2 linked regions of the Homo sapiens genome follow. The protein of the gene in region 2 purifies or fractionates together with the protein of the main gene of each other region. This does not show direct contact. Each region holds a gene or a part of one and is shown on either strand. Other genes may lie near its edges.

The links. The genes of interacting proteins can lie anywhere in the genome.
Region 1: the proteins of TMTC3 (region 2) and SLC18A2 purify together in Homo sapiens (co-immunoprecipitation; one large-scale study listed by IntAct). This does not show direct contact.

The regions. Positions count from the first base shown.
Region 1 is NC_000010.11:117,268,285-117,272,236, forward strand, and holds part of SLC18A2 (synaptic vesicular amine transporter), read left to right. Parts: intron 1-1,786; coding exon 1,787-1,906; intron 1,907-2,045; coding exon 2,046-2,179; intron 2,180-3,952. UniProt on the Homo sapiens protein: Electrogenic antiporter that exchanges one cationic monoamine with two intravesicular protons across the membrane of secretory and synaptic vesicles.
Region 2 is NC_000012.12:88,165,427-88,170,700, reverse strand, and holds part of TMTC3 (protein O-mannosyl-transferase TMTC3), read right to left. Parts: intron 4,372-5,274; coding exon 4,119-4,371; intron 1-4,118. UniProt on the Homo sapiens protein: Transfers mannosyl residues to the hydroxyl group of serine or threonine residues.

The sequences.
Region 1 (3,952 bases), on a different chromosome or scaffold from region 2:
CATGATAAAAATAAGTGCTCAGTCCACCCCTGTAGAAGCAGGAACGCAACCTTTGAGTGGTACAGTGGCACAGCATGGCTTTCACTGAGGACAGATGGTAGAAGGCTGCTGAGGCTGGGGTAGAACTCAGTATGGTACTCTAGGTCCTTCTCAGGTGACCGTTTGCCTGTCCTCTGCCTTGCCTCCCCTTGTCCTCCACTGTCTGGTTGGCCCATCTTTTTAGGGAGGGTGCTAGTCCTCTGGCGGCTCCCCTTGCCATTCTGCAGGTCTGGCAGAGTTGCAGGTTGCTAACTGTACGGCCCCTGGCCTGCATCCTTTTGGTGCTTCCCTGCTTTGCTGTTTTCTGGTTCACTTGTCCCTCACCACTCAGCACACCTGCATGCCTGACCCACCTCCTGCCAGTCACACCTGGGCCACACGCTTAGACTATGGGTGTTTCCAAGGTGGAGAATAATAGGGGGGACCAGAACGCCCCAGAACTCCAAGGAGTCCGAGAGATCATCTGGCCCTGCTCAGAAATTATGTGTGTGTATGTATGTTTATGTGTGTGTGTGTGTGTATGCATGTGTATCCATGTATGTGTGTGTTGTGTGTATGAGTGTGTATGTGTGTGTTGTGTGTATGTGTGTGAACTAAAAGAAGCTAAAACACACATGCACACACATACATACACATACACACTCATACACAAACACACACATTCATACACACAAACACACATACACACACTGACACACGCATACACACACACATACACACATACACCCCCCACATAAACACATACACATACACAAATATACATACACACATATGCATACATACATACACGTAGATACACATACACATACAAACACCCACCCACATACATATGCACACATACACACATACATATACACACATACACACACACCTACACACATACACATACACACACATACACAAATACAAGTACATACACAAACACATATACACAGACACATACACATGCAAACACATGTACACACATATATACACATACATACACAGATACATATATACATATACATAATACACATACACACATGCATACACACATATACATAGACATACACAGATACATATATACATATACATACATACTCATAAATACACACATATACATACAGACATACACCCCAGCAACAACCACGACCAGCATTAGAATCTCGTCTCTTGAATAGTGGGGAGCAGGTAGCATAAAGATGGTGTGTGTTCAGAGTTCCTGGCTCAGACTCCCTGGCTCAGTGAGTGTGGTCAAGCCTCGCCTCTCTGAGTATTGGTTTCCTCATCTATAAAATGGGGATGCTCATGATTGGCTGCTGTGAGCCAGTGTCTGTGAACACACTGGCAGGGACTCAGAGGTTGGTGCCCTCCCCTCCACATGTGTCAGTGGCAGGCACATGAGGAAAGTTTCTTTCATTGAAATGGTGCTTGCTGCTTCCTAATATGTACAAGTGCTGGGGATATGGGTGAACAAAACCAACAGAAGAGTTGGGCATTTAGCAAAGAATTGAAGAATGAATGACAATTGAGATGATGCTGTGAGAGAACATCTGTATACGAGGGGAACCTGACCTCCTCTGGGGGTCAGAAAAGGCTTCCTTCATTCTTTCTACTCAAAGATTAGTATCACCCCAAGACTTGCAGGTGGTGATGACAGAAGGGGAAGAGCTGGCAGGGTGGTGAGTTTAAGACACACTCCCTGATATTCGGCCCATTTTGGGTTTACATCCGTTTTCTATACACTGTGTTCCCTGACTGTCTTCAGGAATGGTGGATTCGTCAATGATGCCTATCATGGGCTACCTCGTAGACCTGCGGCACGTGTCCGTCTATGGGAGTGTGTACGCCATTGCGGATGTGGCATTTTGTATGGGGTATGCTATAGGTAAGGACATTGGCTTTTCATAAGAACCTTTTACCTCAATACGTAATGGATAACGTCTACTAAAATTGTTTAAATCTTTGCATCTTTCAGTCTACAAGACATTTGGAAGAGCTTTATCTAATTCTCTGTTTCCTGAAAGGTCCTTCTGCTGGTGGTGCTATTGCAAAGGCAATTGGATTTCCATGGCTCATGACAATTATTGGGATAATTGATATTCTTTTTGCCCCTCTCTGCTTTTTTCTTCGAAGTCCACCTGCCAAAGAAGAAAAAATGGTAAGAAAAATTTAGGATGCAGTGAGCATTTCTTGATAATTTTAGCATGGCCTTCCTGATAGCTTCCTCATGGTTTCATTCTAAAGCCTTCAAACATAAATGGTGAGAATTCCTTTTTAGTTTGTACCACATAGAGCAGTTACTTCTTTTATTTTTTTATTACTGTGAAAGTTATTTCTTTCAAGCTTATGTTTATAAACTGGGAGAATGAAATTATTTTTGTACATAGATTAGCATCAGTGTTGCTCTTTTGTCGACCAAGTATAAACCTGGAATCATTCAATTTGATTTTCTATGGTTCTTGAAAATCTTGGACACAATCTTTCTGCCTCCTGTACTTATGCCCAAGGTTAGCCATTTGTGGTGCTGTTGCTTTTCTCATAACCCTTACAGCATTCAGTAATAGTTGCTGTCTTGTCTTTACTGTATGTAGGATTTTAGAGATGATTTTACGATTTTTATGGAAAAATCATTGTATATGGACTTTGGGGTATATGTGAACACACAGAACGATTTAATTCATAACTTTATGACCAAAATTATAGCCATAGGCAAGATACAGAGTATAAAGCATCCCTCTTTTGAAAAAGTCCAAATTAATTGATTCAAAATTTGAATTTTGAAATGCATGAGTCATTTTAACCTTTCTAAGGTATTTACCTTACCCAGCAAGGAGACGCTCAGTGTTTCTGATCATCTTTCTTATCTGGTGTTGCCAGTTTTTAAAACAGCAAATGCTGATAGGTACTTGTCCAGGTGAAAGGAGAGTGTCTTGGATTAAGGATGAATGAGGTGAACAAGAGGACATGCATTTTTGTGTTTGAATAGATGTGAGGTTTGTTTGTAATGTTCTCTTGGAAGTACATCAGAAGGTCTTTCTGACAGTGGAACTGAATGCATCTTAATGCTTTGGCATTTCCTGAACTGCCCTTTGATGCTTTTCCCCAAAAGGAGATTTAAAGACAAACCTTAAAATAAGGTTATGTGCAGCCTGTGTTTGTCTTGGGTGTTTTTTACATTCATTAATTCATTCCACATATTTTAAAATATATCAAGCACTGGGCACTGGCCTTGTGCCCTTTATTTTAAATAGGATTTAACTAGATACTTTTGAGTAATGCATGGCCCGTCTGACTCATGGAAAAGGTATGGAAGGTGCTGTGGAAATAACTCAGACAGAAGCCATCCCCTTGTCCTTCCCTCCGCTTGCTTAGATGCTTCCCCAGCTCTGAAAACCACATCACCTTCTCAGACCTCTCTTAGGAGACATCTGCTTTCCAGCTTGGGTGTGTAAATTTCAGATGCATCTTTGCTTGGCTGACCCTAGCATAATACCTTGCCGAAATGGAGTCAGAAAATTCTCAGCACAAATGCAAACTGCCATTCTGTTGCCATGATAACAGTTTAAGGCTGAATGGAGGTTACTCAATGTTTTTGACCAAAAAAAGTATATATGTGTGTATATGTGTTTGTGTGTGTCTGTGTGTGTGTGTATAAAATCACCTACAAATGCTCCTGTAGCCCAGGAAACTGTTTGAAGACTCCTGGGAGATAGTTAGGGCTAGCATGGGCCTGGGAGCCACACTGGCCCCACCATGTAGAGGCTTATGAGTCTTGGTTTCCTCCTCTGTTGCATGGAGAAATGATAACGTCTACCTCATAGGATTGTTGTGAGGATTAAATGAAAGAATCCCAACAGAGTGACTGGCCCTGTGGCTCAAAAAGTGTGTTCCTATTTCCAATATCACCCCACTCTTTCCTGCTTATCTAACT
Region 2 (5,274 bases):
TTGAGACTCTTCTAATGGGCTAAGGTGAAAGAATGTCCTTTTTTTCTATTTGACTTAATTTGTGAAATATAGAGGTGTATACATTGAAAAGAATACTCTCCACAAATGTTCACACATTAATGATTTGTAATAAGGCAACACTGAATCTGAGGAAAATCACTACCATCAAACTGGTCACCATCATACCAATTTATAGGTCTGACACTTCAGTTTTTTTAAATCAAAAAGGTAAGAATAACTAAGAGTGCATAGAATTCACTTTCCATTTCCCAGAGATGCTTGACAAAAATAATCAGCAAAAAATGTGAAACAGATAAAGAAAAGTTCCTGAATATGTATGTAGTTCATTGAAAAAAAAATTATACCTATTAATTCATGGCCGCCCCAAGGCAATTTCACTTGAGGGAATTAAGTGTTAAATTCACTCAAAAGTGTATTGTAGACTGATGCATAAACTATACAAAACAAAAAAAATCTCTCAGGAAAAATCTATAGGTTCTGGGATAAGAAATGTCTCTAATGATTAACTTATTCACAGGTCCTAATATGCTCTCTAATAATGTATGCCAACCTAGTTAACTATCACTCTCTTGTAATTTCCTTCTTCCAGTAGCATAAACTGTCCTTAAATGTTAGGATATTAGTAGAAAGAGCAAAGAGTTCGAGACAAATCTGCTTTACTTCTCATTTCCTACATACGGCAAACCACTCAGTCACCTCCAGAGTCTTTCTTTCTTTTTTTCTTCTTCCTTTTTTTTTTTTTCTGACAGGGTCTTGTCTGTCATCCAGGATAGAGTATAGTGGCATGATCATAGTCTACTGCATTCTTGAACTCTTGGGCTCAAGCAATCCTCCTGCCTCAGCCTCCCAAACACCTAGGACTACAGGTATGCACTACCATGCCTGGCTAATTTAAAAATTTTTTTTAGAGGTGGGATCTCACTGTCTTGCCCAGGTTTGTCCCAAACTCCTGGCCTCCAGTGATCTTCCCATTTCTGCCTCCCAAGGCACTGGGATTACAGGCATGAGCGATTGAACCCAGTTAGTTCTTTACAAATAAAATGGGGATTAATAACAACTTACATTATGCTGTTGACATATATATGACATCTTATCTAATAAGTGCTTAACATGGTATCTGGTAGGTGCTCCTTTGTTCTACTTATCCCTTCCAGAGATCTTCAGAAAACATCACCATAAAAAAAATAGCACCTTTATTAGGACTATACTGAAAATAGAGTTATGCTTAAGGCCACAGCTGTTCCATTTTTATATACATTTAAAATTCAGCTTACATTACATACACCATTATTTTATTTGCTGAAACCTTAATTCCCCTACCTCTCCTTTTTTTTTAACCTTTCTTTTAGGAAAACTCCAGCTTTAGATGTATTCTACCGTTTATTTCTTTTGTCTGTATTTACCAGAGTGGCAACGCACTGCTAGAGAAAGTCCCAAAGCTGAACAGATTAATACTGTCATAAAAGCATGAGCACCAAGTTCAAATTTATCCTTAAGACTGTTTGGGATTTCTAGGTTTCTCTGGAAAGTTCCTTCCACTCTTCTTGACTGCTTTGAATCTTCACTACTTTTCTCAAATTTTTGACCCATGTCAGTTTTAGCAGGCAACTACATTTCCTAATTTACAATGAAAGCTGAAGCCATAAAACAAGAATTTCTTTAATTTCCTGCTACTAAACCTACCAACATCCACATTCATTTCTTCTTGTAACATAAGGGGTGTCTCTTCTATCTCAGGCCAAACCTGTGCTCCCTATCTCCTGCTCCTCATAAACTTCACTAACAATTATCCCTTCTCTAATTTATTAACCACTTTCTAATCAACTGTATTCTTCCTATCTATATTTAAACATGCTCTTGTCTCTCCAGCCTTAAACATCTTTAACAATACATTTTTTAAGCTACCTTCCCTATTCGTTACATACCTCAGGTACAAAACAAGTTCTCATGATCTTAGGAAAAGATTTTGTTGCCATAGTATCAAGTAGCCCACTTAACTAATCAACTTAAGTCTACCACTTAACCAATCAACATTTCAGCTTAATAAATATGTTCCTGCAAGCCAACCCATCAGGGATATCCGCATTCAAAAAAGTCAGCTGAGTAGCTGAGTACGCCAATAAAAATGCTTCTATATGCCAACCAATCAACAGTCTCTCCCTGACATTGCTCCCTCCTACCTCTGAAGGTCTACCAATGCCAGATCTCAATGCTTCCCCAGGCCCTACATAAGATAAGCAGTTTGTTATACTTGAAACCATTGCCTGACCAGCATAGTCTTCCCTTAGGGAGGAATTAATCAAGTTTATCCCATCCTTTGAAACAGTCAAAGTTAAATTATTCCTACAGGTCTATACTAGCTCTCTTCACTTCCTCATCAAATCACTCACTGCACATAAACAAATTTCATTTAAGTACCTACAGACTAAAAGAAGTCCAATCCAACAGATTCTAGATCTCACTTTCCCCCTCAAGAGCATCTGTTAGTGTTAACCATTTGGTCTGTAATACACTTTCCTACTTTTCTCTTCATTCGATATGTCTTCTATTCAGGATCCTTCTCTTCAACATCTAAATATAGGAGTTTCTCAAGACCTAGTAGTAGGTATCTTCTCTTTTCACTGTATTTAGCCCACTCAACTGTTTTCTGGGGAGAATTAAGACCAAATACCCTAAGGCTTCCATTATGAGTATGAGTGAACTTCTGTGCATCTAGAATGTTAACAGCTACCATCTTTGACAGAATTGACAAAACCCCAGTTGAGAAAGGCTGCTCTATAACCTCATCTACATTTCACCTTATCTACATCCTGGTTTCAATTACCACCTCTATGTTAATGGATAAGATTTCTATGTGTAACTTAACTATCTTCTATGAACTCCAGACATAAAGTGCTGTTCAAAATGTCCAACAGGATGTTTCAACAGTAATGCAAACTCAACATGTTCAAGGATAATAGACAACACAATCTTTAAATCTACTCTGTATCTCAGACATCCAAATTTCTCTAGAATGTAAGTTCTCTGGAAACGTGAACTGTGTAAGTTCTCTGGAAACGTGAACTGTGTATTTACTATCATAACCTCAGCACCTAAAATGCTGCACTGTACAAAGGGTAAAGTCTAAGTTTTTATTGAATGAATAAATCAATCTAGCAGCTACAGCAAAAAATTATGTATCTGCAATTCATTAAACATACTTTCTGACATATAATAAATGCCTGAGAAAATGTACTATTGTCTTCAATAAACTTTTATTTTTATTTTTGTTTTTTTGAGAAAGAGTATTGCTCTGTCGCCCAGACTAGAGTGCAGTGGCGCAATCTCAGCTCACTGCAAATTCCACCTCCCTGGTTCAAGTGATTCTTGTGCCTCCGCCTCCTGAGTGGCTGGGATTACAGGCACCCACTACCACACCCAGCTACCCAGCTAATTTTTGTATTTTTAGTAGAGACGAGAGTTTCACCAGGTTGACCAGGCTGGTCTCAAACTCCTGGCCTCAAATGATCCACCTGCCTTGGCCTCTCAAAGTGCTGGGATTACAGGCAAGAACCAACGCACCCAGCCTGTCTTCAATAATTAAAAGGGAGAGAAAACATAACTCTTATGAGTATGAAGTGACACAGGGTAAGAAAATAAGAAGAAAAACAGTACAGAAAAACCACCACCAAAAAAAAAAAAAAAAAACTGTTCAAATAATCAGAGTTCTCCGAACATAGTGAAAGCTATCTAAGGGAGTAATAAAAACCACCTTGCTCATGAGAACTGAAAAGCTCTATATTTCTAGTTGTATATCTTATATGATGTTCTTCTCTGTGCCAAGAAAACAAATAATATACAATATAATCAATTTCTTCAAAAAGTGTATAATCTAGTTGGATAAAGGTAACAAATATTTTATGTGCTGAACATATGTCAAATTATGCCTGCAAATTAACTGAGAATTTTGGGATAAACTCAAATACGTTTATAAATTGGGATGCCGTTGAACAAAGAAAGGAGTGCTTCTAAAAAGATGCTTTTGCTGAATTAAAGGTAGTTTCTTACTTATTCAACTGAATGTTAACATCATTTGGAAGTTAAGAAAAGTTTCTTACCATTAAAACAGTCTTGGAGGAATCACCAGAGTATCTGATACTGAATACTCCCAACATCCCCAGAAAACAAAAGAAAGTAAATGTGGCCAGATTTCGAATATCTAGTAATGACTCTATAAGTGGTATTGTTCCCATGGTCCAATCACAGCAGAGCTCTGAAGGATTTAATAACAACCAAGCATTCACAGGAAGGAGGTAGTTAAAAGTTAGTTGCCTTGTAGGAGTTGGGCTTACAGCAGCTGGGTTATCAAACCTGTATAAAGGATTAAAAAAAAGATTACAAATAAAACTTTTAAAGTACAGAATTATTTACATAAGTAAAACACTAAACAATAAACATTTTATATATCATCTTATTAAACAGAAGACACAGACAAATGTTATGTGTACCTCAGACTCTTGCTAGAGTTCAAACTATCAAAACTTTATGAAACATCTACTTCAGAGAAGTGATATTTATGAAGGACTGTTTGAAAGGCAAGCAGGTCATCCATTTCTGTTTATTATTAGAATAATTCAGACATGCATCCTATAATATTACAACACTGCAAAAGTGTTCCATTAAACCTTTTGATTAAAAGTAGTAACAAAAAGTTGTATAAGATTTATGGTTGTATGTGTTGTATGAATCACTTTTGAAAACACTCACCAATGCTTTCCTACATGAGACATTTCTTTTAGAGCTAAATGCTAATTAAAAATTATGCTTCCTGGAAAAAATTCGTATATTTTTCTTCTGTCATGGAGAGAGAAAACCATATCACCTAGCTTCCTTCCCTCTTTTCTTTGACTCCTAGGAAGCTAAAAACCAAATTTCTAGTACAAAGTAGTAACTGTGTAGGCCTGTGTAAGAATTTGTGTTCTACTTTCTCTCTTAGTAAATACTAATATAAGCTTATATCATAGTTTATCTTTTCCCAGGCCACAACATATATACATTTCATTAGTTTAGTCTGTGTTCTAAATTATATTGGTTATAATATATAGTACTTAAAAGACCCATTTTCTCATTTTAAGATGAGTAAGCCAAGGAAAATCAACTACTGCCACTTATTTGACTTGATTTTCTGAAAACATATCAAATATTTGATAAAAATAAATACTATTTGAACAAATAATATCATTTCAAAATTTTCATACGGAATCTCACAACTTA